Linked DNA regions of Homo sapiens: region 2 is linked to region 1. Evidence: fine-mapped expression QTL. A gene starts in region 1. The other region holds a variant in brackets. All regions are shown on one strand. Distances are between the middles of the regions.

Region 1 (13,661 bases):
CATAAGGAATGATTTGAGACAGTGGCTACTGAGTGCCCATTAAGAAGAACTGACAATAAACAATGTTGGAGTTCAGAGAACTGACAAAGAGAACAGGAGTGTGGTAATGGACCAACGTGACTGGAGAGAATCTTTTCCAGGTCTTTTTATAGACAAACTGTGACTCAGTTTTGTTATTATAACTCAGAGAATTTTCTCTGCATAGCAGCTTGTCAATAGCTTAAAACTTTGTGTTGTTTTTATTTTTATTTTATTTTTTGAAACAGGGTCTTGCTCTGTCACCTCAGCTGGAGTGCAGTGGTGTGATCATGGCTCACTACAACTTCAACCTCCCAGGCTCAAGCAGTTCTCCAGCCTCAGCCTCCCAAGTAGTTGGGACCAGAGAAGCCCACTACTAAACCCAGCTAATTTTTTTTTGAGACGGAGTTTCATTCTTGTTGCCCAGGCTGGAGTACAATGGCGCGATCTCCACTCACTGCAACCTCCGCCTCCTAGGTTCAAGCGATTCTCCTGCCTCAGCCTCCCGAGTAGCTGGGATTACAGGTGACTGCCACCATGCCCGGCTAATTTTTGTATTTTTAGTAGAGACAGGGTTTTACCATGTTGGTCAGGCTGGTCTCGAACTCCTGACTTCACGATCCGCCCGCATCAGCCTCCCAAAGTGCTGGGCTTACAGGCATGAGCCACCGTGCCCAGCCTAATTTTTTTTACTTTTAGCAGAGATGAGGTCTCGCTATGTTGCCCAGGCTGGTCTCAAACTCCTGGGCTCAAGTGATCCTCCTGCCTTGGCCTCCCAAAGTGCTGGGATTACAGGCATGAGCCACTGCGTCCGGCCTAGAGTGATTTTATGAAAGCAGGGTCTGACCCCTCCCAGGAACAACACACCTTGCCATTTCTATGTTGAATGAGGAGGTGGTGGCAGCCTCCAAGAGCTCAGATTTCCTCACGCCTGGCTTCCCAAGCACTCAGTTTTGGGGACTTACCTCTATCTGATAAGAGACAGACCTTGGCTGGGCACAATGGCTCACGCCTGTAATCCCAACACTTTGGGAGGCCGAGGTGGGTGGATTACCTGAGGTCAGGAGTTCGAGACCAGCCTGACCAATATGGTGAAACCCTGTCTCTACTAAAAATACAAAAATTAGCAGGGCATGGTGGCATGCACCTGTTAGTCCCAGCTACCCAGGAGGCTGAGACAAGAGAATTGCTTGAACCCGGGAGGCGGAGGTTGCAGTGGGCCGAGATCACGCCACTGCACTCCAGCCTGGGCAACAGAGTGAGACTCCCTCTCAAAAAACAAACAAACAAAAAACACACAAAAAAACCAGACCTTATTCTTCACCTGGCCACCCTGACACCTCCCCTTCTAGTTAGAGGAAATGCTATCTACTTCAAGTAATTCTCCTTTTTTTTTTTTGAGACAGAGTCTCTCTCTGTTGCCCAGGCTGGAATGCAGTGGTGTGATCTTGGCTCACTGGAAGCTCCGCCTCCCAGGTTCACACCATTCTCCTGCCTCAGCCTCCCGAGTAGCTGGGACTACAGGTGCCCGCCACCATGCCCAGCTAATTTTTTGTATTTTTAGTAGAGACGGGGTTTCACCATGTTAGCCAAGATGGTCTCAATCTTCTGACCTTGTGATCCGCCTGCCTCGGCCTCCCAAAGTGCTGGGATTACAGGCATGAGCCACCGCGCCTGGCCAGTAATTTTCCTTTTACATAAATGCCATAATCCCTTTTCCCTTTACCTTATAATCTCATCCTCAGGCCCTTACCCCAAAATAAAAATAAATACCTCCTGAAATTTGACAGTGCTTCATTTTCTAGATTACTACCTTGCATCTGACTTCCCTGCAGATGGAGAATTGCCCCTAGATTTAGGGGTTTTGTTTGTTTGTTTTTAAGTGCACAGATATTCCTTTAGAGTTTCACTGTGGGATAAAAATAGGATATTAGGGTGAGAAAAATCAAGGTTTGTGCCTGACAGTTGATTCAAGCACAAGGTAATGCTATTTGCGACAATATGTTAGTTAAACCCTTCAAAGGAAAATGAAATCAAGAAGTGTACTCCTTACATTTTTTTTTTTGAGACAGAGTCTCACTCTGTCACCCAGGCTGGAGGCAGTGGTGCAACGTCAGCTCACTGCAACTTCCGCCTCCCTGGTTCAAGCAACTCTCCTGTCTCAGCCTCCAGAGTAGCTGGGACTACAGGCACATACCACCATGCCTGGCTAGTTTTTTTTTATTTTTATTTTTAGTAGAGATGGCGTTTCACCATATTGATCAAGCTGGTCTCGAACTCCTGACCTCAGGTGATCCACCCGCTTCTGCCTCCCAAAGTGCTGGGATTACAGGCATGAGCCACCGCGCCCAGGCCTCTTTACATTTTAGGGAGACATCATGGTACATTCATTTTCTACCAAATGGAGTAAAAAGAGCTTCCGTAGAGACATTTAGCATTGGGCAGGCAAATACATTTATTTCCTTCTGTAACAGCATGTGCTTGGCAGAACACTGAGAACTGGAGGTTGAGAAAAAAAAAAGTGGTCTTCCTGCTCACTTTTCTAAGACATCCTTGCTAACACAGCATTGCCAAAGGGCTTGCGTGTGAATCACCACAAAGTTAAGTGGCTGATGAAACTGAGAGTTTATGAGAATTTCTGATGAAGCAGCACATAGGAGTGCCTGTCGGTTATTGTATGAGTGTGATGCAGTCTATAATTTGACTTGTTTGGGTCTTTTTATTATTATACGTTGAGCTTCACTGAAGCCTGTTGCAAGCTTTTTTATTTTTCCTTTGCTATCAGAATTCTTCTGCTTCATGATGGAGAATTGAGGCTTTATGGCAAGAATGCTAAATATACCTTAAATTACAGACAGAAGAAGCTGAGAGATAGTTATTATGTTTTATTAGCATCTGATTCCAGGCACATAATCCCAATTCTCATAATTTCCTAATCAAAGATGCATTTCATTTCTGCACTCACCCCAGTCTAGTTGGATACCCTCTGAAGTACCCAGGAACCAAGCCAAGAGCAGTATCAAGAAAAGATAGATGATTATGCAGATGGCTTGAGTAAAACTTGTCTTTAGGCTCCCAGCATCCTCCCACTTCCTAGGCTCAGTACTCCTCTAAAGTTGCCAGACTTAGCAAGGAAGTACATAGGTGCCTGTATGTTATCTCATTAAGGCCCTTAATAGCTTTATCTTAATCCTTCTGCCATCAGAGCCTATTTTTTTGGGGAAAAAAATTCAGATTACTCATCAAGCCTTAGAGCAATATTTCTCTAAATCTGGTCCCAGATAATCTGCAGAAGAATAACTTGGGAACATGAAAAATGCAGATTCCTGAGTTTCACCCTAGACTTCCAGAATTAGAAATTCCAGAGGTGGGGACTGGGAATATGCATTTTAAATGTCCTCAGCAAATTCTGAGACACAATCAAGCAAGACAATTATTTAATAACCTTAGTGTCTTTCCTCTCCAACTGTACATACCTGAAGACTCCATCCTACTTGTAGAAAAGGAGATAACAAAGGTTCAGTACCTGGCATTTACAAGGACCTCAATCAATACTTGTTCCCTGAATCCCTTCTTAAAGGAACTGTGGACTTCAGGAGCCAGAAGACACCAGAGGTCCCTTTCCAGTCCCTTGAAGTAAAATAAGTCTGAGGCTGTCTCTAATCACCTCCGCACACCGAGGGCCTAATCCATCTACCTGACCCTGTCTGGTCCAAGCTCCTCGAGGCTGGCACAGCTTTGGCCGTCAGGAGAGCCTTCTGGGCAGTGGCTCTAACAGAACCATGTCCAGGACTTCATCCGTGGGACAAAAAGAGTGAATCTTCAGTAAGTCTGTGTGCAGAGAAGCCTGAGATGATTTACCTCATTTCTAAGCTACTACTGTACTTTGTTGTTGTTGTTGTTGTTGTTTTGAGACGGAGTCTCGCTCTGTCACTCAGGCTGGAGTGCAGTGGCGTGATCTCGGCTCACTGCAAGCTCCGCCTCACGGGTTCACGCCATTCTCCTGCCTCAGCCTCCCGAGTAGCTGGGACTACAGGCCCCCACCACCACTCCCAGCTAATTTTTTTTTTTTTTTTTTTTTTTTTTTTTTTTTGTATTTTTAGTAGAGGCGGGGTTTCACCGTGTTAGCCAGGAAGGTCTCAATCTCCTGACCTCGTGATCCGCCTGCCTCGGTCTCCCAAAGTGCTGGGATTACAGGCGTGAGCCACCGAGCCGGCCAACTACTGCTGTACTTCTTACCCCCTGTATCAAAGAGTTAAAATCTAATTTTTTCCCAAGATCGGTCTCACTGTAAGTCTGCTATCTGTATTTTCCCATTCTTCGTCTGATAGCCACCGACATTAATGACCAGCTCATTACATGTTGAGGTGTGGGGAGATGGGGGTAGAACCCCGTCAACCCAGGATTCGAGTTTAGAAAGACTACAAGCCCCAAAATGCAATTTCACCTCCCAAAAACTACCATTCCCAACATGCAATGCAACCAGGACGAGCCAAGGAAAAAAAGTACAAGTGTGGCTGCAAAGTTTGCCCCTCTTGTTACCCTCAGGCAAATGATTGATTTAGAAAGGCCCCAGGGGCTATTTTTTGCAGGAACGGTCACTCCCTAAATCCAGGCAGGGAAAGGGAGGAGTCTGAGCCGAGTCACGCCCCTTCTCCTGTAAACTTGGGTCGCCTCTAGCTTAGCGAGCGCTGGAGTTTGAAGAGCGGGCAGTGGCTGCACACGCCAAACTTTCCCTATGGCTTCGGTGACCAGGGCCGTGTTTGGAGAGCTGCCCTCGGGAGGAGGGACAGTGGAGAAGTTCCAGCTGCAGTCAGACCTCTTGAGAGTGGACATCATCTCCTGGGGCTGCACGATCACAGCCCTAGAGGTCAAAGACAGGCAGGGGAGAGCCTCGGACGTGGTGCTTGGCTTCGCCGAGTTGGAAGGTGGGTTGAACTGTGCCCTGGGCTGCGAGCAGGCCCCAGGCCCACGCTACATACCTCCCGGATCTAGCGGGCCACTTGCAATGCGAGGGACCAAGGGGGAAAGTCGCCTAGCTTGGGACCGTCTGACTTGCAAGCGCATGCATCATAGAGGGCCGTGTGGCCATCCAGCATTTGGGAAAAACTGTAATAAATAAACTATGGCAGTTGGCCTCTGGTTATCCGTTCAGGCTTTGCCCCAGTTAACGTAAAAGGTCAGCTGATGGTATGATACACTTCAGCGATCCTGGAGCGATCTTTGAACTGCCTAATCTTTGAACTGCCTGATACCTGGAGAAGGCTGGAGAGGAAAGAGCAGGCAAGAGGGGGTGTGGCTCCCACTTCTTCCCTTCTGAAGAAGGAAATTCAAATACTTGCCTCTTCTACTTCCTTCTTCCTTGATCAGATTCTCTTTGAGGCCTGGTTGTCTCAGAAATGCTCCACTAAGCTCAGTGGTTGCCTAGTACACCAGCTACCCAATAACCATTTAGGAACAAAATAGAGAAGACCAACTCAGTGTCTTCTCAGAGATCAGGTCTCCTACCAACTAGGATGGACTTTTATCCCAGAATCCATGGGCAATTAGGATCAGGCATTAATTAATACATTTGACAACTCTATTAATCCGATGACCTCATTAAACAGGACAGACAAGGTCCCCACTCTTGCGGTTTGGCTGGGGAGATAGACTTTAACTCAGTAATTGCATAAATAAAGAATGACAATTGCAGCTTGATTGCAGCAAAGGAAAATGTACATCATGCTCTCTTAGCACCATGGTGTAACTAGACAGAAAATGAGGTGTGAAATAAAGCTGGCAAAGGGAAACTGAGAGTTAATACTCTCTGCTCAGTGGTTGGGGCGTAGACAAATTCTGCTGGAGAGGAGGTTTGAGGTTTTCCTTTTGGTGTGTCATTCTGTCTGTTTGGTTCTTCCGATACGTAAGATATGTAACTTGGCTCATGGTTACATGTTGGCCAGACCAGCCTGGCCAGCATGGTGAAACCCTGTCTCTACTAAAAATACAAAAAAATTAGCTGAGCATGGTGGCACGTGCCTGTAATCCCAGCTAGTCAGGAGGCTGAGGCAGGAGAATAGCTTGAACCCAGGAGGCGGAGGTTGCAGTGAGCCAAGATTGCGCCACTGCACTCCAGCGTGGGTGGCAGAGCGAAACTCTATCTTAAAAAACAGAGAGCAAATTTCAATTCCTCAGGGAAAAAAACAAAACTCAGCTTTCTGTTGAACACCACCATGCCCGGCTAATTTTTTTGTGTTTTTGGTAGAGATGGGGTTTCACCATGTTGGCCAGGCTGCTGGCGGGCACCTGTAATCCCAGCTACTTGGGAGGCTGAGGCAGGAGAATCACTTGAATCTGGGAGGCGGAAGTTGCAGTGAGCCGAGATTGCGCCACTGCACTCCAGCCTGGGCGACAGAGTGAGACCCCATCTCAAAAAAATAAAAATATACTCTAACCTTTCCCTCTGCCTTTCTGTGTAACAGCTGACCATAAAGAAATTAAGACCCTCATTCCAGAGGGGTCCTGCCCCATACCCGGAGGAAGAAATGCTGCATGGGGAGGCCAAGAAAAATCTGAACACAGGCCTTGCCGAGTTTCCCCACTCACTCTATTAGCAACAGATCTTACCCTTTTGGTCCAATCATATTTCTACATGGCTGTCCATGTTCCATTGGACCTAAGCATAGAAATGGATTGTTTTCCTTGTATCTGTCGGTCTTCATTCTGAAAGCTCCCGTGTCACATAAAACTATAATCAAATAAATTTGTTTGGCTTTTTTATGTATTTTTTATTTTTTAGAGGTGGAGTCTCGCTCTGTCACCCAGGCTAGAGTGGAGTAGTGCAATTATAGCTGACTTGCAGCCTCGAACTACTGGCCTCAAGCAATCCTCCCACTTCAGCCTCCCAAAGTGCTGGGATTACAGACATGAGCCACTGTGCCCAGCTGTTTTGCTTTTCTCTTGTTACCCTGTGTTTGTTGTAGAGGTGTGGGCTGTGACTCTTACAGGGGAGATATACAACACTCTGTTACTATTTTGATGGTGCTCTGATACTACATTTCTAGTGCATTAAAACCTATGTTAACAATAAACTGGTAACAGTGGTTGTTAAGAAAGGATCCTGGGTGCCCAGGGTGCAGAGGATGGGAAGGAGACTTAATTTTCACTGCATATTCTTTTAAACCATCAGAGTATGTAAGTATATATAAACAAACAGAGGTAAATAATTTAAAGTAATAAGACTTGACAGAGGCCGGCATGGTGGCTCACACCTGTAATCCTAGGAGTCCAAAGTGGGAGGATCGCTTGAGGCCAGGAGTTTGAGACCAGCCTGAGCAACATAGTGAGACCCTGTCTCTAAAATAAATAAAAATAAATAAATAAATAAATAAATTTAAATTTAAAAAAAATTTTTTTAAATACTTGACAGAATAAGGGGTTATCTTGACATTACCATATCCCAAAAATGGTTTTGAGCCATGCGGAAGATCTGAGCGTGGATAATTCCATGAGACATGGTCCTTTTGTAACTGCAGAGTTAGATATGAACAATCTTCAATTTCCCAGACAGGTTATATAAACTGTTTGGATGACAGCCATAACCAGAGGTCAGAATGGTTCAGTTTCTCCCTGGGAAAATGGGATTTTTTTCTTTCATAGAATTCTAAAGAAGAAAATTATATAAATTTTTAGTTACAGTAAGAGAGGAGACCACCCCTCATATTGCCTTATGCCCAATTTCTGCCTCCAAAGAAAGAAGTAAAAACTAAAAGGCAGAAACGAAATCCACAGGCAGACAGCCCGGCACTACGCCATGGGCCTGGTAGTTAAAGATCGACCCCTGACCTAACCAGTTATGTTATCTATAGATTCCAGACATTTTATAGAAAAGCAGTGTGAAAATCCCTGTCCTGTTGTGTTCTGTTCTGATTACCGGTGCATGCAGCCCCCAGTCAGGTACCCCTGGCTTGCTCAATCGATCACGACCCTCTCACGCAGACCCCCTTAGAGTCGTAAGCCCTTAAAAGGGACGGGAATTGCTCACGCGGTGAGCTCGGCTTTTGAGACGCAAGTCTGCCTTCTTCAATCCGGTGTCTAAGGAGTTTTGTCTGCGGCTCGTCCTGCTACAACAGCCTAGAAAAATCAGTAATGCCTCCTATGAGTTTTTCAACCTTTTTTTGTATTTAAAAATGTTTTTTGCCGGGCACGGTGGCTCACGCCTGTAATCCCAGCACTCTGGGTGGGTGGATCACAAGGTCAAGAGACAGTGACCATCCTGGCCGACATGGTGAAACCCATCTCTACTAAAAATACAAAAATTAGCTGGGCATGGTGGCGCATGCCTGTAATCCCAGCTATTCAGGAGGCTGAGGCAGGAGAATCACTTAAACCTGGGTGGTGGAGGTTGCAGTGAGCCGAGATTGTGCTACTGCACTCCAGCCTGGTGACAAAGCAAGACTTCATCTCAAAAGAAGAAAAAAAAAGTTTTTCTTTTTTTTTTTTTTTTTAGTGCAGTGGCGCTATCTCGGCTCACTGCAGCCTCCACCTCCTGGGTTCAAGCGATTCTCATGCCTTAACCTCCCAAGTAGCTGGAATTACAGGTGGGCACCACCACACCCGGCTAATTTTTGTATTTTTAGTAGAGACGGGGTTTCACCATATTGGTCAGGGCTGGTCTCAAACTCCTGACCTCAAGTGATCCACCTACCTCAGCCTCCTAAAGTGCTGGGATTACAGGTGTGAGCCACCACGCCCAGCCTAAAAATATTTTTCATCGGCATGTCCCACCTACAGTCATTATGATTTCTTTCAAAGCCTGTGCTGAAAATATTTGCTTATAAGCCACAGGTATAAACAACCTACCCATACAATCATTGAAACGCCTTCCTTTTCATGTTTCCCCCAGTTGCCACCAAAGACCTGGCTATTAACTGCCATGAGAGGCATTAAGGAAAAAATAGAAAAAGTAAATTTAGTGCCTTTAGAAAACCTGGGTTCAGAAGCAGGGATGAGGAAAAAAAAGGATCAGGTTAGAGGCTGCAGTTTATTGTCGCTCACGCCCAGGAGCACCCTGGTGGGAGCATTGAAAATTCCTGGTTTAAAGTTCTGCTTCCTTCCTTAAAGCTGTGCGACCCCGGGCAATTTACTTAAACTCTCCAGACCTATTTTCTCACGTGAAACAAATGGATTGTGATGATTTAATGAGCCATGGGCTGTGATATGTGTCTAACCATATCTGACCACATATTTGATACGTCTCTGATCAGAGGGAGCAACTAATCATTTTTATCCCCTTTCTTTCCTTTGCCCCCAAATACCATCTCTGACTCTACTAGAACTTTTTATTTCACTTAATTAACACTGCAAAAAATGGCATGGAGATTCAACTAGGACAGCAAGCAGCCACTAAAAAGTATATAAATTATCTGAGATTACTAAAGTGCTTATTAATTAAATTGTTTTCTTCATATAACCAAAGGATAAGTCATTCTGTGAATGGGGGTTTTGATTGAGAGTGGTGAGTAATTTTATTTCAGACTTTAGTGCACTCTGGCTAATTTTGGGCTGTCCAAATTGGGTGTCACAGTGTGGTCCTTGGGTTGTTAGAGGAGTGGAAAGGGCCATATCCCATGATTAAGCATTTATTAATTTATTCTCGCCAGTGCCTTGCCCAGGAAAGGGGGAAGCGTTTCCTCTACTCTAAGCTCAGCAATTGACTTGGTTAAATCAATATTCATGGCTTGACCTAGGAACTTTGAACATTTTCATGAAAAATAGTATTTTCTGCATTTCAAAACAAATTTTTAGCCATGCCTTATTCGGGATTTGGGGATTGTCACTTTTGTAATTCCGATTTGATGTGAAAGCTTAGTAACTATTAGTCCACTGCTATAGAAGAACTGCCTGAGACTGGGTAATTTATAAAGAAAATAGGTTTAGTTGACTCACAGTTCCTCATGGATGGGGAGGCCTCAGGAAACTTACAATCATGGCAGGAGGCGAGGAGGAAGCTAGACAGATCTTACACGGCAGTAGGAGAGAGACAGAAAGGAGGGGAAATTGCCACTTTTAAATCATCAGCTCTCGTGAGAACTCACTGACTATCACAAGAACAGCATGGGGGAACCGCCCCCCTGATCCAATTACCTCCACCAGGTGGGATTACAATTCGAGATGAGATTTGGGTGGGAGCACAAAGCCAAAGCGTATCAGTAACATTTGAAGGTAGTATAAAATTTATTTGTTCTAAAGGGTTTTTCAGAGACAGGATTTCTGCTGTGCTTAAATTCTTAAAAACTATTCCTCCAGGGGCACAGTGGCTCTCACCTGTAATCCCAGCACTTTGAGAAGCCTAGGTGGGAGGATCACTTGAGCTCAGGAGTTCAAGACCAGCCTGGGCAACACAGGGACACTCTGTCTCTAGAAAAAATACAAAAAGTATCCAGGTGTGGTGGCGCATGCCTGTAGTCCCAGCTATTTGGGAGGCTGAGGTGGGGACCTGAGCCTGGAGGTCAAGGCTGCAATGAGCCGTGATGGCACCACTGCACTCCAGCCTAGGTGACAGAGAAAGACCCTGTCTCAAAAAAACAAAAACAAAAACAAAAAAAACCCTGATAATTATGGGGAAAAAAAAAAACAACAAAAAAACCCTATTCCTCCAAACCAAGGAACTGGCCTGGCAAGTGCTTCTTATCTTCATGACGTGATTGGTTTTGGGTAGTGGTCACTTGTAAGGGAATTCTTGCAAGCCCATGTGGTAGGAGCCCTGCTGTTGGCTTTGTGGTTGTCTCCAACACCCAGTGTGCCTCTGGCAGAGAGCGGGAGCTCAGTGTTCACTTGTTGAATGAATCAAAGTAGGACTCAAAAATCTCTACAGTCAAACATCTTGTTTTTTAGAAAAAAAATTCTGCTTTTCTATAATTTTTGAGCTTCTGAAAAGCGGATGAAACAAAACCAAGGAAAGATTGTTTGGCTCTTTGGGACTCCTTTTGGTTAACCAGTGTATGGGCTTTTAAAGCTATTTTCAGAAAGAGAAGAAGGTGGGGAGAGGTGGGAATAGGAGAGAGAGAGATCAGCCTGGCCTGTGCCTAGGGATGGAGGTAAGGTTAATAACCAGAAAGCCTGCGCTTTTCACATAATTTGATACTGAAGAACATGGACTCATGAGCTAGACTGTCTGGATTCAAGTCTTGGTTCTGCCACTACTTAGCTGTGTGTTTTGGGGCAAGTTATTTAACTTTTCTGTCCTCAGTTTCCACATCTGTAAATTGGGATAGTAATAGTGTCTACATCATAGAAACGTTCTGAGTATGAAATGAAGTAAATGTAGAGCACTTAGAAAGTGGCTGGGACACACTTTGGGAGGCCAAGGCAGGTGGATCACCTGAGGTCAGGAGTTTGAGACCAGCCTGGCCAACATGGTGAAAACCCATCTCTATTAAAAAAAAAAAAAAATTTAGCTGGGCTTGGTGGCGGGCACCTGTAATCCCAGCTACTTGGAAGGCTGAGGCAGGAGAACTGCTTGAATCCAGGAGGCGGACGTTGCAGTGAGCCAAGACCGCACACTGCACTCCAGCCCAGGCTATAAGAGCAAAACTCCGTCTCAAAAAAAACACAACACTCAGTAAGTGTTAGCTATTATGATAGTCAATGGGCAACACTCTGATGCACCTGCAGATTAGCAAAGAAGCAAACCAGGAAAGGCCTGGAAGAGAAGGATTAATGTTTAATTTGTACCCAACCAGTTGGGTAATGGAAACCTGTGACCTGTAACTGGCCTAATCAGCTCAGGGTCTGTATCCTGAGAGCCTCTCCATCCCTTGAAAAAATAGTTCATATGCTTGAATTGCATTCTCTGCTGATCTGAAGTAGACATGACAGATACAGAGTACCACGGGAAAAGGGAATGGAATTCAGAGGACATCTAAGTGAAAACTAGAGTGGAAAGTAATCTTGGTAATAATACAGAAAACAATCTCCAGACCTTAATCTTTTCCATCGTAAAGTAAGCACAGAGGAATTTAAAGAGAAGAAAAGTACCATAATATGCCCACGCCCAAAGTTGTAAGTATGAGGACGCTACTTTGCTTTTTACAGCCCCTCCCCTAAAAAGGCCCCAAACAGTTTATGCTGATTATTATACCATGTAGCCATCAAAAGTAATATGGGGCCGGGGCGGGTGGATTACAAGGTCAGGAGATCGAGACCATCCTGGCTAACACGGTGAAACCCCGTCTCTACTAAAAATACAAAAAATAAGCCGGGCATGGTGGCGGGTGCCTGTAGTCCCAGCTACTCGGGAGGCTGAGGCAGGAGAATGGCGTGAACCTGGGAGGCGGAGCTTACAGTGAGTTGAGATCGTGCCACTGTACTCCAGCCTGGGCGACAGAGCGAGACTCCGTCTCAAAAAAAAAAAAAAAGGGAACTCAAAAAAAAATAAAAAGGAATATGGTAGATATGTCATGACATGGAGCAATCTGAAGATATTTGATAAATGAAAAGTTGCAGAACAATGTACGATTATAGTGTGATACTCTATGTAGTATGATTCTCTTTATATGGAATATGTGTGTTTGTGTATTTATATATTTGCTAATATGTAGTTAATTCAAATTTTTAAATGAAGTGTACGTGCCAGACTGTTAATAGTGGTTACCATTGGAAAGGAGGGGAGTGGAGAGGTGAAGGAAGGCTTTTGTGTTTTAGTCCTTGTTTAGGTTGCTAGACTTCACAAATAAAAGTACAGGATGCCTGGTTAAATGTGGATTTCAAATAAACAGCTTATACTTTTTTTTTTTTTTTTTTTGAGACAGTCTCGCTCTGTCGCCAGGCTGGAGTGCAATGGCATGATCTTGGCTCACTGCAACCTCTGCCTCCTGGGTTCAAGCGATTCTCCTGCCTCAGCCTCCCAAGTAGCTGGGACTACAGGCACAGGCCACGACACCCAGCTAATTTTTGTATTTTTAGTGGAGACGGGGTTTCACCGTGTTGGCCAGGATGGTCTCAATCTCTTGACCTCGTGATCCACCCTTCTCAGCCTGCCAAAGTGCTGGGATTACAGGCGTGAGCCACCGCGCCTGGACACAACTTTTAAAGTATAAGTATGTCCCATGTATAATAATAACATGAACAAACTTATACTAAGCAATTATTTGTTGTTTATTTGAAACTCACATTTAACCAAGCATTCTATATTTCCTCTGGCAAACCTACTCTATATCCTTGTGTATTACCTAACTCTCTCTAAAGGATATTTTAATGTACTAATTATGTGATTTAAAAAAATAAGAAGAGAAAGAATAAGATCGCTTCCCCTCAAGACCACACGAAAGTATAACTTTGGCCTAGAGAAAAGGAGATTACAAAGCAGTGTTATACAGTCCCCCTTCAACCATAGTTTTGCTTCCTGCAGTTTCAGTTACTCAGAGTCAACTTTGGATTGAAAATAGGTGCATACAGTACAATAAGATGTTTTGAAAGAGAGAAAAGCCTGGGCACAGTAACTCATGGCTGTAATCCCAGCACTTTGGGAGGCCGAGTTGGGCAGATCACCTGAGGTCAGGAGTTCGAGACCAGCCTGGCCAACATGGTGAAACCCCGTCTCTACTAAAAATACAAAAATTAGCTTGGTGTGGTGGTGCATGCCTCTACTCCCAGCTACT
Region 2 (16,403 bases), 33 kb after region 1:
CTCACAGGTGTGCCTGAGTCCAGTCTCAAACTTCAGCGTGTTCTGCCAGAGCTGGACTGAACCACAAGGCCACTTTCCTGAGACGTGCTACAAGAACCTGTTAGACCAGGTCGGGTGCAGTGGCTAATGCCTGTAATCCCAGCAATTTGGGAGGCCGAGGTGGGCAAATTACTTGAGATCAGGAGTTCGAGACCAGCCTGGCTAACATGGTGAAACCCTGTCTCTACTAAAAATTCAAAAATTAGCTGGGTGTGATGGTAGGCGCCTGTAATCCCAGTTACTTGGGAGGCTGAGGCAGGAGAATCGCTTGAACCCAGAAGGCAGAGGTTGCAGTGAGCCCAGATCACGCCACTTTACTCCAGCCTGGGAAACAGAGCGAGACTCTGCTTCCAAAAAAAAAAAAAAAAGAGAGAGAGAAAATAACCTGTTAGACCAGCCATACTCCATTAAGACTTCTCAAAATAAATATGCACTATCTACCGACTGTGGTTTTGTTGAATTGAGAAAAAGAAGATACTGATTATCTGTGAGATAAGGTGAAGCTTTATGATAATAATAGCTAGTATTTCAGGGAGGACTTTATAAATAATTCATACCACAAGCCTGTAAGGTAGGTTCTGTTCATTTTTCTTATTTAACAGATGTGAAAACTATAGAACAAGGAGTTAAAGTACCTTACAGAGGATGACCCAGTTAACAAGTTGGGGAAAGCCGGGATTCACACCAAGGTAGTCTGGTATTAGAACTCAGGCTCTTAAGTAGACCTGCACTCTACAGATCTTACAATGTGGTTAGATGTCAAGAAGGTTTGGTGCCAGGCACAGTGGCTCACACCTTTAATCCCAGCACTTTGGGAGACCAAAGATTGGTTGAGCCCAGGAGTTCAAGAGCAGCCTGGGCAACATAGGGAGACCCTGTTAATACAAAACATTTTTTTGAATTAGCCAGGAGTGTTGGTGCATGCCTGTGGTCCCAGCTATTTGGGAGGCTGAGGTAAGACAATTGCTTGAGCCCAGGAGGTCAAGGCTGCAGTGAGCTGTGATTGTGCCACTGCACTTCAATGTGGGTGAAGAGCAAGACCCTGTCTCAAAAAAAAAGAAGAAGATTTGGGAGGTAGGGGAGAGGCAGAAAGGAGTGAGGAAAGAAAGAAAAGAAAAGTAAATTAATTTCTTTACTATATAAATACCCAAGTGCAACATATAGTCAATAAATGAGAAGTAAGCCAAAACAAAGAACAGACTTTTGCCAGCTGTCAATCCTCAGCTCTTTTGCCACCTTTTGTACAGGGAGCCTCCCCAGTCCTCTCACTGTCTCCTCCTTGTTCCTTCCTCCCTTCAATTTATTTCTACTTTTCTGCAAAGAAAACAGGAAACCAAGTTTGTTTAAATTAAATATAAGAAAGGGAGAGAGAGAAAGAGGAAGGAAGGAAAGGAAAAAGGGAAGGAGGGAGAGGTTTTCTTGAAATTAAAGAGCATGAATTTAAGTGTCTGGCCTTGTCAGTCTGACAAGAAAGGGAAAGTCAGGCTGGGCGCAGTGGCTCAAGCCTGTAATCCCAGCACTCTGGGAGGCCGAGGCGGATGGATCACGAGGTCAGGAGATCGAGACCATCATGGCTAACATGGTAAAACCCCGTCTCTACTAAAAATACAAAAAAATTAGCCAGGCGTGGTGGCAGGCGCCTATAGTCCCAGCTACTCGGCAGGCTGAGGCAGGAGAATGGCGTGAACCCGGGAGGTGGAGGTTGCAGTGAGCCAAGATCGGGCCACTACACTCCAGCCTGGGCAACAGAGCAAGACTCCGTCTCAAAAAAAAAAAAAAAACAAAAAAAGAAAGGGAAAGTCAAGGGAAAGTCACCTCAGGTGTCATTGTTCTGTTGCAGCATATGGTGTTCCTGACAGATCCCTTGTCTTTCTGGTTCTTGGTTTTCTCATATGCAGAATCTTGTTATGAACAAGTTGTGTTGAAAGTTCACATTCTTTAAGTATGTATGTTGGTCATCTCTGTTGAAAATGATAGAAAAATCACCTTCGGTAGAAAATTTACAAACAGGCCGGGTGCAGTGTCTCATGCTTGTAATCCCAGCACTTCAGGAGGTGGAGGCGGTTGGATTTTTGAGCCCAAGACTTTGAGACCAGCCTTGGCAACACAGTGAAACCCCATCTCTACCAAAAATACAAAAATTAGCCAATCTCACAGCCCAGTCTCAAAATAAATAAATTAAATAAATAAATAAATAAAGTTTCAAAAAAAGAAAGCAAACTTACAGACACAGTTAAAGAAAAGCTGTACCATTTACAGGGTGGCGTTCAGCTATCTGGAGCAGTCCCTTATGGTGGGTACTTCATTTATCCTGGGGAGATGCTGGATAATGAGTTCGTTTTAGACCCTTTGCTCTACCTGGCTTTTCCTGGGGTGGCTGCTTGGTTGTGCTGAAACCCTCAGAAATCAACAGTAGAAAACTTCTCTAAAACAGCTTTGGCCTTTTTGCATATGAATGACTTTTACTGCGTAAATCAGTTATTTTGCTTACCATCCTAGTCCTCTGCTTTCCACCCCAAATCCTTGTTTATGTGTGTGTGGTTTTGTTTGTTTGCTTGTTTGTTTGCTTGTTTGTTTTTTGAGACGGAGTCTCACTCTGTTGCCCAGGCTGGAGTGCAGTGGCTCGATCTCAGCTCTCTGCAGCAACCTCCACCTCCCGGGTTCAAGTGCTTCTCCTGCCTCTGCCTCCTGAGTAGCTGGGACTACAGGCGCGCATGCCACCATACCCGGATAATTTTTGTATTTTTAGTAGAAATGGGGTTTCACCATGTTGACCAGGCTGATCTTGAACTCCTGACCTCAAGTGATCCACCCGCCTTAGCCTCCCGAAGTGCTGGGATTACAGGTGTGAGCCACCACACCCCGCCTGCGTGTTTGTTTTTTAAATCTCTCTTCTTAGGGTCATGAGATTTCTCATTAATTTCACTTAGAGCTCCTGGAGAGAAAAGCCTCTATTATTGTCACTATAACAGTAAAAAAAGTGTAGAGATTTTTTTTTTTCTTTTGAGACAGAGTTTCGCTCTTGTTGCCCAGGCTGGAGTGCAATGGCGTGATCTCAGCTCACTGCAACCTCCACCTCCCGGGTTCAAGCGATTCTCCTGCCTTGGCCTCCCAAGTAGCTGGGATTACAGGCATGTGCCACCACACCTGGCTAATTTTGTATTTTTAGTAGAGATGGGGTTTCACCATGTTGGTCAGGCTGGTCTTGAACTCCTGACCTCAGGTGATCCACCTGCCTTAGCCTCCCAAAGTGCTGGGATCACAGGCATGAGCCACTGTGTCCAGCTTTTCTTTTTCTTTTCTTTTTTTTTTTTTTTTTGAGACAGGGTCTCTTTCTGTTGCCCAAGCTGAAACAGTGACACAATCATAGCTCACTGTAACATCAAACTTCTGGGGCTCAAGCAATCCTCCTGGCTCCGCCTTCCAAATAGCTAGGATTACAGGTGCACATCACCATACCCAGGTAATTTTTTCTTTTTTTACACGAAAATGTCTCAACATGGATTTTTTTTTCTTTTTTGGCAGAGATGATGTCTCACTATGTTGCCCAGGCTGGTCTCAAACTCCCTGCCTCAAGCCATCCTTCCACTTTAGCATCCCAAAGTGCTAGGATTACAGGCGTGAGCCACCGCACCTACCCCCAAGAAAGCTTTTTTTTTTTTTTTTTTTTTTTTTTGAGACAGAGTCTTGCTCTGTCAACCAGGCTGGAGTGCAGTGGCGCGATCTCAGCTCACTGTAACCTCTGCCTCCCATGTTCAAGCAATCCTCCCGCCTCAGCCTCCCGAGTAACTAGAATTACAGGCACATGCCACCACGCCCGGCTAATTTTTGTATTTTTAGTAGAGAGGGGGTTTCACCATGTTGGCCAGGATGGTCTCGAACTCCTGACCTCAAGTGATCCACCTGCTGTGGCCTCCCAAAGTGCTGGGATTATGGGCATGAGCCACTGCACCCGGCCCCCAAGAACTCTTCAAATGCACCTAGTGTCACAAGAAAAGATAGTTAAACTGTGTCTGAAAAAGTGGCTTATGTGGGGAAATTTGTGATGGATTTAGGGAAACTTAGGGTAAATTTTAAACATAAGGCCTTTTGTCAGATCACCTACATTCCTCGGATTGTGCGTGGGTTTGTCGCAGGTGCTTGATGTGACAAATTACACAGCTTCTATTGCTTCATTTGATCAGCCGCCTGTTGACTTTCAGCCAAGTCCTGCAGGGTTGCTTCTCAGATTGTATCTTTCTGCAAGACAAAGATGTTTTCATAGTCTCTCTTTAACTTCTCCCTTTTGTGGCTATTAATTTATACTTATATGTTTTTCAACTCCTTATTTTTGTTTTCTCTTTATAAAAGTTTTAACGTGTGCTATTCTTGAGGGAAATACTGATGCATATCTAAACTTTAGGGGTGTTTTTCACCCTGGCTACAGACACTCGGTAAATAATTTTTCAGGTGATGGGAAAACACATCATCATGAGAATGTAGCAACTTTTATTTTGCAGTAACTGTTAAAATTGTGGCCACAGTGCTCAGTAAAAGGGGACCTTCCCCCTGTAGGTGTTTGGGGAGGAGTGACGTCCTGTCCTCCATTTTGTTAGTAACCCACTTATGGATGGGGCATTATCACCTAGAAAGAAAAGAGATACCATGGTATGCAGTTACAGGGAGCCAGAGCAAGAGCAAGACAAAGAAATTCCCTTACGTCTTCAATGCAGAGCCGGCATTTAGACCTCTACCCCAGGCAGGACCCACAAATCTTTGGCAGCCATGAGCACCTGTTTTGCTCCTGCCTTCTTCCTGTTGGCAATTTTGGGTTTTGGGGTTTTTTTTTTTTAGACAGAGTCTCACTCCATCACCAGGCTGGAAGTACAGTGGTGCAGTCTCGGCCCACTGCAGCCTCCGCCTTCCGGGTTCAAATGATCCTCTTGCTTCAGCCTCCCAATTAGCTGGGACTACAGGTGCGCACCACCACGGCCAGCTAATTTTTGTATTTTTAGTAGAGATGGGGTTTCACCATATTGCCCAGGCTGGTCTCAAACTCCTGACCTCAAGTGATCTGCTCACCTCAGCCTTTCAAAGTGCTGGGATTATATATATATTTTAAATAAATGAATAGAATTCATCACCTAACTTCTAAAGCTACCTCTGTAGATGAAATTCCGGCACTTAGGAGTCAGCAGTGGTGTATTGAGTGCATAGCCCTTGCTCACAGGTGCTTCTTTCCTGTCCCATGGCAGGTGGCACCAACAGAAGGTTTCTGCAAGGCTGAGAGCTCCTTTTACCCATGGACCAGGAGCAAAGTTTGCAGGTACACTGTCAGGCTGTGTTTGGATGTTAGCAGTTAATTTAGCTCTGCGTCTTCAGAGCAATTATTCTTAGCTACTTAAAAAAAAAAAAAGGAAAAAAATGACACCCATAAAGCATTTGCTGCTCCATAGGATGGGAGCACACTCTGTTGTTGGGCATATGAGTCCCTCTGGCATGTGTTTTCTATGTTTATTGTTGTCAGGGCTGTCCCTGTAATTTCCCAGAAGTAGAACTCCCTGAAGCTGTTTCCCAGAAAGGACAGGGGTGTAGATAATGGATGTCCAGAGACAGAGAACACTGCAGTGCCAGATCCCTGTGCTGCTTTGTCAGACATTTGTTTATATATTGTTTGTTTTTGAGATGGGGTCTCACTATGTTGCCCAGGCTGATCTTGAACTCCTGAGCTCTCAAGTGATCCTCCCACCTCGGCCTCCTAAAGTGCTGGGATTACAGGCATGAGCCACTGTGTCCAGCTGTTATTATTATTATTATTTTGAGACAGAGTTTTGCTCTTGTTGCCTAGGCTGGCGTGCAATGGCACATCCTCGGCTCACTGCAACCTCCGCCTCCTGGGTTCAAGCAATTCTCCTGCCTCAGCCTCCCGAGTAGCTGGGATTACAAACGCCCACCACCATGCCCAGCTAATTTTTGTATTTTTAGTAGAGACGGGGTTTCACCATGTTGGCCAGGCTGGTTTCGAACTCCTAACTTTAGGTGATCTGCCCACCTCGGCCTCTCAAAGTGCTGGGGTTACAGGCATGAGCCACCGTACCTGGCCCCAGCTGTTATTATTTTTAATTGATACCTAATACTTGATATCTAATACATATTTTATTGATACCTAATACATATTTACAGGGTACACTGGGATATTTTGATACATGTTTACAATGTATAAGGATCAAATCAGGGTAATTAGCATATCCATCACCTCAAACATTTATCATTTTTTTGTGTTGGGACATTCAAAATCTGCTGTTCTAGCTATTTGAAAATATACAATAAGTTGTTGTTAATTATAGTCACCCTATAGTGCTTTAGAGCACTAGCACTTATTCCCCCTATCTAGCTGTACTTTTATTAACATTAAACAACCTTTAGGCTGTGTGCGGTGGCTCATGCCTGTAAACCCAGCACTTTGGGAGGCCGAGGTGGACTGATCACCTGAGGTCAGGAGTTCAAGACCAGCCTGGACAACATAGCAAGAACCATCTTAAAAAAGAAAAGAGAAGAATATTTAAAATTTTCTTCACTGATCATTCAGGAGCATATTGTTTAATTTCTGTGTATTTGTACAATTTCAAAAGTTCACCTCGCTGTTGAGTTCTAGTTTTATTCCACTGTGGTCAGGAAAGATACTCGATATAATTTCAATTATTTTAAATTTGTTGAGACTTGTTTTGTGGGCTAACATATGGTCTATTCTGGAAAATGTTTCTTGTGCTGATGAAATAATGTGTTTTCTGAATCTGTTGGATGAAATGTTCTGTAAATGTCTCTTTGTTAGTCTAAAATGCAGGGTTTTTTGTTTTTTTGAGAGAGTCTCACTCTGTTGCCCAGGCTGGGAGTGCAGTAGCATGATCTTGACTCACTGCAACCTCCACTTCCCAGGTTCAAGCAATTCTCGTGCCTCAGCCTGCCAAGTAGCTGGGATTACAGGTGCCCGCCACCACACCCAGCTAATTTTTGTATTTTTAGTAGAGACAGGGTTTTACCATGTTGACCAGGCTGGTTTTAAACTCCTGGCCTCAAGTGATCCGCCCACCTCAGCCTCCCAACGTACTAGGATAACAGATGTGAACCACCGCGCTCAGCCTAAAGTGCAGTTTAAATCTAGTGTTTTGTTGTTGATTTTCTGTCTAGATGATCTGTTCAGTGCAGAGAATGGGGTGTTGAATTCCCCAGCTATTGTATTGGTGTCTATGTCTCCCTTTAGATCTAATAATATTTGCTTTATATTATGTATCTGGGCGCTCCAGTGTTGGGTGCATATATATTTAGAATTGTTACCTCCTCTTACTGAATTGATCCCTTTATCATTATATAATAACCTTTTTCTTTTTTTTAATCGTTTTTTACTTGACGTCTGTTTCATCTGATACAAGTACAGCTACCCTGCTTGCTTTTGGTTTCTGTTTGCATGGAATATCTTTTTCCACCCTTTCAGTCTATGTGTGTCGTTACAGATGAAGTGAGTTTCTTGTAGGCAACCGTAGTTGGGCCATGTTTTTTAATCCATTCAGCCAGTCTATATATTTTAAGGGGGGAAGTTTAATAAGTTTACATTCAAGATTATTATTGATAGGTGAGGACTTCTGTCATTTTGTTAATTATTTTCTGTTTTTTTAAATATATCCTTTGTTCCTTTCTTCCCCTCTTATTGTTCATCCTTGTGATTGGTGGTTTTCTGTAGTGGTAAAATTTGATTCTTTTCTCTTTCTCCTTTGTGTATGTGCTCTACCAGTGAGTTTTCTACTTTTTTGTGTTTTCTTGATAGTAATTATCATTTCACTTCCAGATGTGGGACTCCCTTGAGCATTTCTTATAAGGCTGGTCTAGTGGTGATGAATTCTGTCAGTTTTTATTTGTCTGAGACATGTCAGGCATTTAGCTTCAGGACCTGATTCTAGTTCCCTGCCCTGTGGCAACAAGTAGAAACAGATCCCTGGTACCCTGCTTAAGTATTACACCAGCTAGATGTGAGCAGATGAGAAAATCAAATCCTTCTATTTTGCCAGGGATTAATTCATTCTCAGGATTGTAAATATTACATTTCACCTTTCACCTCACAGAACTGTAGAATTAGGAGGTGAGCTGGGCAGCCTGCCCAGCAAGACATTATGATGTATACAATACAGTGCACTACTAAGGATGTGTCTTTAAAGGCATTTACAGCACACAGTTTTTTTTTTCCTTATAATTTTGCTGCTCTTTATTTGTAGTAGTAGATAAGGAATTAAGAAAGCAAAAATGAGTGCTTTGACTAGGTCTTTTGCCTTTGAAAGTAGCATTAGTAAAATCCCCTCTTCTTTTTTATTCTTATAAAATTTACCCAATTCACTCTGTCCCCCAGCCCATCTGTGTTCACTTGCTGTTCTTGCTGCTCTCAGTTTTTAAAAGCTTATTCTAAAATTACATCAAAGCAACCCCATTTTGACAAAATTAGAATTCTGGTAGGAAACGCTTGCCATGAGGCTGTGGAGAGAGGCCCAGCAAGACTTTTGTATTTTATTTCAACCTCTGTCGGTTAAACCTACAATTCGGCAGATGATATAATTACCTCCCTGGGGCAGGTCTCTATCTCTGCCTTGGAGAAATAGCAAAGTCCAAAGTAGTCTCCTCATTCAAAGATGTTGCAAACGAAGGCTGTTTTGATCTTTATGTATTAGCATTTGGGTGTTAA[T/C]CTTTCTGGAGCTCCTGACAGAAAATTCCTTTAAATTTATTATATAATTCTAAAATATTGGACATATTTGTTTCAAGCATCTGTCAGTATCCTTACTCTTTCCATTTCACTCCCCACTGCCTTAATTAGTCATCAGGTCCTACTGATTTTTAACTCCTAAGCATTTCTCAAATCTGTCTCCTCAGTATGTATTGTTGGTTATATAACTCCATCTCCATTTTCACTGTGCTGCTTTAGACTATCTTTTCTTGTCTAGATTAGTGCCTGGCTTATATTATGGGCTTCATAAAGTGGGATCAATGAATGAATGATTCATAATCTGGACAACTGCACTCTAACACCTAACTGGAAAAAAAAAAATCTTAAGATCTATCTTCCATGTAAAAGCATCTATCTAAAATGCAAATCTTACTTTGATAATCTCCAGGTTAATAAACCTCTTAGACGGCTCTCAGGCCTCCCCAAAACCATCTCTCATTTCACTGATCAAAAAAATAAAAATTTAAAAATTTTAAAACTTAAAAAAAAAATTGAACATTTCACTGGTCAAAAAACAAAAACAAAAATGATCTCCGAGCATGCCTCCCTCACACCCCACCCTGCTGTGCATCCCTTTCCCACCCCCAGCCTACAGAGACCACCCAATAACCTCTTCTTTGCTACATGACCCTTACCCTCCTTCTTCAAGAGTCATACTTTCTCCTTAGAAACTTTTCCCCCCACTTTCTGGAAACTGTAGATTCTTTCTTGCTTATGGTTTTTGTAATGACATCAGCCATTTAGAATTCATGATGTGGCCAGTCTCTGCTATCTGCCTCTCCACAGAGCTTGCTCAGATAATCCATCAGGATTTAGTCACAGATCCAAAGTAGGGAGCTAGAAGGGAGCTTCAGGCTTGGTCTCTTCGGGTTGAAGCTAGAAAACTAATCTATACTGAACACAAAAATGAAGCTGAGTAATAGCCAACCTATACATCCTAGGAATTAACTATTGCTTATTTTGCCCCCAGCCAGTCTCTCCACACTCCTCTCTCCTTTACATTTGTTTTAAACACTATATATATATATACACTTTATTTATATATATATACTTTTTATATATATATATATATAATATGTGTAATTTTTTTTTTAATTAGCTGGGCATGGTGGGGTGTGCCTGTGATCCTAGCTACTCAGGAGGCTGGGAGGCTGAGGTGGGATGATATGTGGGATTTTATATATATATATATATATATATATATATATATATATATTTTTTTTTTTTTTTTTTTTTTTTTTTTTTTTGAGACAGAGTTTTGCTCTTGTTGCCCAGGCTGGATTGCAATGGTGCGATCTCAGCTCACCGCAACCTCTGCCTCCCAGGTTCAAGCGATTCTCCTGCCTCAGCCTCCCAAGTAGGTGGGATTACAGGTATGCACCACCATGCCTGGCTAATTTTGTATTTTTAGTAGAGACAGGTTTCTTCATGTTGGTCAGGCTGGTCTCTAATTCCCGACCTCAGGTGATCCACCCACCTTGGCCTCTCAAAATGCTGGGATTACAAGCGTGAGCCACCGCACCCAGCCTTAAACACGGTATATTAGCCCAACACTGTGTGAGAACTGGGATTCAGAAAACCAAGATATAGGTCTCCGTTCTGCCATCCACTAGCTATGCTATGAGTCAGCCATGAAAATTCTCTGGGCCTCATTGACTGAATCTGTAAAATCTGACTTGATGAGGATTATATTCATTGAACTCTGAGGTCCTGTCCATTTCTTACACCCTGATTCAAAGACCGCACAGAATCTCTAACCCAGATATTCTTAACTAGGGTTCTTGTATGTCTGGGAAGATGATGAAAGAACTTCAAGGGGATCATGAGCTCTTTAAATTCTATATAAAATCCAAGGCTGGGCGTGGTGGCTCACGCTTGTAATCCCAGCACTTTGGGAGGCTGAGGTGGGCAGATTGCCTGAGATCAGGAGTTCGAGACCAGCCTGGGCAACATGTTGAAACCCCCTCTCTGTGAAAATACAAAAACAATCAGCTGGGTGTGGTGGCATGTGCCTATAGTCCCGGCTACTCAGGAGGCTGAGGCACAAGAATTGCTTTGAACCCAGGAGGCAGAGGTTGCAGTAAGCCAAGATCGTGCCACTGTGCTCCAACCTGGGAGACAGGGAGAAACGCTGTCTCAAAAAATAAATGAATAAATAAATAAATAAATAAAATAAAATAAAATAAAATAAATTCTATGTAAAATCCTTTGTGAACTTGCTGCATCACCTTGGCCCACAAAGGGGGTTTTCTTATCTTTTTTCCTCTTTCAAAGTAATGATAGTCTATGGTTGCCCTACTATGTATTCTCTTTTTATTATTTTATTATTTTTTTTTTTAGAGACAGGGTCTCACTCTGTTATCCAGGCTGGAGTGCAGTGGTGCAATTATAGCTCACTGCAGCCTTGGCCTCCTGGGCTCACGCGGTCATCCCACCTCAGCCTCCTGCATAGCTAGGATCACAGGCATGCCCCCATCATGCTCAGCTAATTTAAAAAATATTTTTTTTGAGGCTGGGCACAGTGGTTCATGCCTTTAATCCCAGAACTTTGAGAGGCTAAGGCGGGAGGATTGATTGGGTCCAGGAGTTCAAGAACCTGAGAAATACAGAGAGACCCCATTTTTACTACAAAAAAATAGAATCAAAAAATTAGCCAGGCCCAGTGGCATTCACCTGTAGTCCCAGCTACTTATGAGGCTGAGGCAGAGGATTGCTTGAACCCAGGGGTTCAAGGCAAATTGAGCTATGATTGGGCACTGCACTTAGCTTTGGTGACACGGCAAGACTCTGTCTCCATTAAAAAAAAAAAAAGTAAGGCTACAGATAAGAAAGTACTTGGACAACAGTAAAAAAGTTAAACTCATGACATTGGACCCTATGAAATGTGTTTACCCTAGAGCTGTTTATTGTATGATAGGTCCCTGCTAGATAGTATTCAAGGTTTAATGCAAAAACTCCAAGGACCTCTCTTGGTAGCAGTGGTATTCTTTAAGACGGCACATTACTGAATCCTTCCTGTAAAATGGTCACAAGATCATTTTTATGAGCCTCTAGAATAACTCCTGAAGCTACTCATGCTCCCTACTGGAAAACACATTACTGTTACAAGATTGGCAAACATGAACCAGCATGGTAGAAATCTGGCAGGAAGAAAGCTCAAAATTTAGCACTTGGCCAGGCGATGTGTAATTCCTGTGAAAATTGCAGGCTAACAGTCAGTGAATTTGTCAGAAGGGGAATTATTTGCTAGAGCTCTGACCACCACCCTTGGAGAGTTGATGGTTCACATCTACCCTTCCTCCAGCCCAGGTCTGGACAAGGGCTGCCTCTAGTTCATTCCTGGTGCATAGCCATCCTTAGTGGTCACTACATTCTGAAGGGGCTTAGTGGGACTGTGGGCCTTGGGCAACGGACCTGATGTTAACTCAAGTAAGTTCCCAGAGCAGATTTGTATTCAGTTCAGCTAACATTTATAGAGCACCTACTGATTGCTACATGCTGCCTGAGAGATAAAGAGGATGGAACACTGTCTCTGCCCTTGAGAAGCTCAGAGGGATGGGGAGAACCTAATGTGGTCAGAGCAGTTGTAGAGATAATGCCTGTGGGACTGAAGGAGTGTAGAAGCCAGGGTAGAAAGAGGATTCTCAAGATTGTCCTGAGCTGTGAGAAGCCTCTCAGTGTCTGTGAGGATCTAGCCACAAGGAGAGTGAGAGTACCAAAGCACAGAATGCAGGAGTGGTGATGACTGTTAAGCCAATAAGCCAAAGAGACAGTTGGGCAGAGCAAGGGCTAGGGTGCAAAATTTAAGGCAGCATCCACTCCCAGGGTCGTGCATGTGCAGGGTCAGCACCTGAGAGTGTGTGTCTTCTTAAATTTTGCACCCTAGGCACCTCATTTGCCCAGCCCTACAGTTGGGTACAGTCATGATTGTCTTTCTGGGCCATGCCGATGAGCTGGGATTTTTTTTATTTTTTATTTTTGACGGAGTCTTGTGCTGTCGCCCAGGCTGGAGTGCAGTGGCGCAACCTCCCCCTCCGGGTTCAGTGGTCCAACTTCCCGCTCTGGGTTCAAGCTATTCTCCCACCTCAGCCTCCCGAGTAGCAGGGATTACAGGCGTGCACCACCACATCAGGCTGATTTTTTTTTGAGACAAAGTCTCACTCTGTTGCCCAAGCTGGAGTGCAGTGACACGATTTTGGCTCACTGCAACCTCCGCCTCCCAGGTTCAAGCGATTCTCCTGCTTTACCTCCCAAGTAGCTGGGATTACACGTGCCCGCCACCCTGCCCAGCTAATTTTTGTATTTTTAGGAGAGACGAGGTTTCACGATGTTGGCCAGGCTGGTCTTGAACTCCTGACCTCGTGATCCACCCACCTCTGCCTCCCAAAGTGCTGGGATTACAGGCGTGAGCCACCACACCCAGCTGGAATTTTAACTTTAGATCATGGAGGGCTTTCAAGCATTCTAAGCTGGGAACTGACCTGTCAAGATTGGCATTTTAGAAATCTCACCCCAGGTTGGGCGTGGTGGCTCACACCTGTAATCCCAGCACTTTGGGAGGTCGAGGCAGGTGGATTGCTTGAGCCCAGGAGTTCGAGACCAGCCTGGGCAACATATCGAGACCCCATCTCTACAAAAAAAAAAAAAAAAAAATTAGCCAGGTGCGGTGGCCCACACCTGTAGTCTCAGCTACTCGGGAGGCTGAGGCTCAAGGATTCCTTGAGCCAGGGAGGTGGAGTTTGCAGTGAATTGTGATCCAGCCTGGGTGACAGAGGGAGATTCTGTTTCAGAAACAAAGAAATATCACCCCAGCAACTGTTCTGGTGGGACTTGACTGGAGACAGAGACCAGTTTAGATGCTGTTGTTGGAGCTGGGCACAATGGTGTGTACCTGTAGTCCCAGCTACTCAGGAGGCAGAGGCAGGAGGAACACTTGAATCTAGGAGTTCAAATCCAGTCTCGGCAACATAGTGAGACTCCATCTCTTTAAAAAAAAAAGGGGGGCGGGGGGGTCGCTATTTTAATAGTCCAAGCAAGAGATGAGACCCAAATTAAGGGTCAGGTGGAAGAAGGCAGTTTAATCATATTTAGGAGGTAAAACTCAGGAGGCCTGAATTGAATGCATAGATGAGGAAGCAGGAAGGCTGTGTGATGACCCCGGGACTCTAGAGCAGCTGCTGGGCAGTAGAGATGGGGATGTTCAGTGAGTTGTGAGTAGGGGAGGAGGGGGAGCTGGCATGGGGGGCTGGGAGAACTATGGATTTGATCTTGAAATATTTGAGGTTAGGGTGCCTGTGGGGTGTACATCTCCCCTGTACACCTGACCTTACACTTCCAGCAGCTGGATGCATGAGTGTGACGTTAGAGAAATGACAGCTGGAGGCATACATCAGCGTGTACTTTGTAGATTAAGCCACGTGGATTTACCAGAGAGGAATCATAGACTGAGGAGAGCAGTGGTCTGAGGACCAAACCCTGGGAAACTCTAGGAAACAACCACCAATATTTAAGGTCCAAAAAGGGTCTACCTTAAAGTGCCAAGGGAGATGGCCAGGGGTAGAAGGCAAAGAAGGAGAAGAGGTGTCTAGAAGTCTTGGAGTGACCAACAGTGTCAATACTCCAGGGAGTCAAGTGGCAGGAGACCTGGGAACCTGCATGGCTGTGGTGGTTGTTGTCCTGACCCCGTTTAAGAATGTAACAGAGTGGTCAGGGCAGAAGCCAGACTGTAACCGTTTGAGAAGTGACAAAAAGTGAGGAAAGATTCAGGAATATAGGCCAATAACTGGTTCCCAACTAGGCAGCTTTCTTGAATACAGAACCCTGCCAGGCACAGTGCCTCACGCCTATAATCCCAGTCCTTTGGGTAGCTGAGTCGGAAGGATCACTTGAGGCCAGGAGTTCAGGACACAGCAAGACCCCATCTCTACAAAAAAAATATAAAAATTAGCAGCCGGGTGTGCTGGCTCATGCCTATAATCCCAGCACTCTGGGAGGCCGAGGTGGGTGGATCACTTGAGGTCAGGAGTTCAAGACCAGCCTGGCCAAAATGGTGAAACCCTGTCTCTACTAAAAATAAAAAATTAGCGAGGCGTGGTAGCACACACCTGTAATCCAAGCTGCTCGGTAGGCTAAGGCAGGAGAATCACCTGAAGCTGGGAGACGGAGGTTGCAGTGAGCCGAGGTCATGCCATTGCACTCCAGCATGGGCAACAGAGTGAGAAACTGTATCAAAATTAAAATAAAATAAAATAAAATAAAATAAAATAAAATAAAAAAGCCTGGCATGGTGGCTTGCACCTGTAGTACCAGTTGCTTGGGAGACCGAGGCAAGAGTATCTCTTGAGCCCAGAGAGCTAGGGGCTACAGTGAGCTGTGATCACGCCACTGCACTCCAGCTGGGTGACAGAGCAAGACCCTGTCTCTAAAAAAATAAAAATAATAAAAATAAATAAAAAAGAATCCTGGGCCCCACCTCAGAGATTCTGATTCATTTGCTTTAGCACAGGGCCATGGAATCTGTCCCAGCATCCTAGAAGCTACCTCAGTGAGTTAACAGAAAGGACTGGTATTGAAAGTGCTGTCGCCTGGGCACAGTGGCTCAAGCCTGTAATCCCAGCACTTTGGGAGGCCGAGGCGGGCGGATCATGAGGTCAGGAGAGCGAGACCATCCCAGCTAACATGGTGAAACCCCACCTCTACTAAAAATATGAAAAATTAGCCAGGTATGGTGGCGGGCGCCTGTAGTCCCAGCTACTCAGGAAGAATGGCATGAACCCGGGTAGGCGGAGCTGGCAGTGAGCAAGATCATGCCATTGCACTCCAGCCTGGGTGATAGAGCGAGACTCTGTCTCAAGAAAAAAAAAAAAAAAAAAGAAAGTGCTGTCAACAAGCTGTGACAAAGAGAAGGCTCCTCTGTGAGGCAGGGAAGTGGGGTCAAATAACAGTTTTTTTTGTTTGTTTGTTTGTTTTTTGAAGGAGAGGAGCTGATTTAGGACAAGTAAAATGGTTGTCAGAGAGCAGAGGAATCCAGGGAAGGCTTGAGACCGTGAATCTGTGGTGGCCTCTGCCGGTGCTTCTGTGGGCTTTCTCCAGCTCTCTCGGCAGGGCGGAGTCAGGAGCAGAGAAGGCAAATGGTGGGATGACCTGAAGTTGGGGTTTTATCAGAGAGGAGGAGCAGGAGGACAGGGTGTAAGGCAGATCAAGGAGTGTTACTAAGGGTCTCAGGTCCTAGACAGTGGGCCTAGACAGGTAGGCAGTGAGGGTTGTGGGGGACAGGGAAGACGCGTGGCAAGGGGCCCTGAAAACCAGGGGAATATGGCAACATCAGGGGCCTGGCAGTCCCAGGAGGGGAGCAGGTCTAGCAGGAATGCCCTTGTGCCTGTGCAGGAGAGCAGCAGGACTAGGAGGCTGCAGACAGACAGTGGGTAACTGAAAGGTGAACTTTCTACTAGACAGCAAATCCCTGGATGTCATCCTGATGGATCTAAGATGAAAAATACCCCACCATGAAAATGCCTTACGTGGTCCCAACCATGAAGCGTAAAATTGCCTTTTCACCTGAAAACGACCTGCAGCTTGGTTTAGCATTTTATGCTTCGGATGTCATCTAACATCCAGA

What was found. PIP is the estimated chance that this variant, and not a neighbour inherited with it, causes the effect.
Region 2: its variant is fine-mapped to the expression of GALM in whole blood (INTERVAL, PIP above 0.99).

What each region holds. Positions count from the first base shown.
Region 1 is chr2:38,661,406-38,675,066 of GRCh38, forward strand. It overlaps GALM (galactose mutarotase), which reads left to right and starts at 4,709. Exons shown (of 7, transcript NM_138801.3): 1 at 4,709-4,946. The coding sequence starts at 4,757. RefSeq lists enhancers at 4,461-4,973, 4,974-5,486.
Region 2 is chr2:38,693,093-38,709,495 of GRCh38, forward strand. All of the region lies in intron 4 of GALM (galactose mutarotase), which reads left to right. It overlaps LOC124905993 (a long non-coding RNA gene), which reads right to left. Exons shown (of 3, transcript XR_007086292.1): 2 at 4,145-4,278. Among named protein-coding and RNA genes, the nearest start is that of GALM, 35 kb to the left of the region's middle. The variant T/C (reference allele first, on the strand shown) is at 8,747.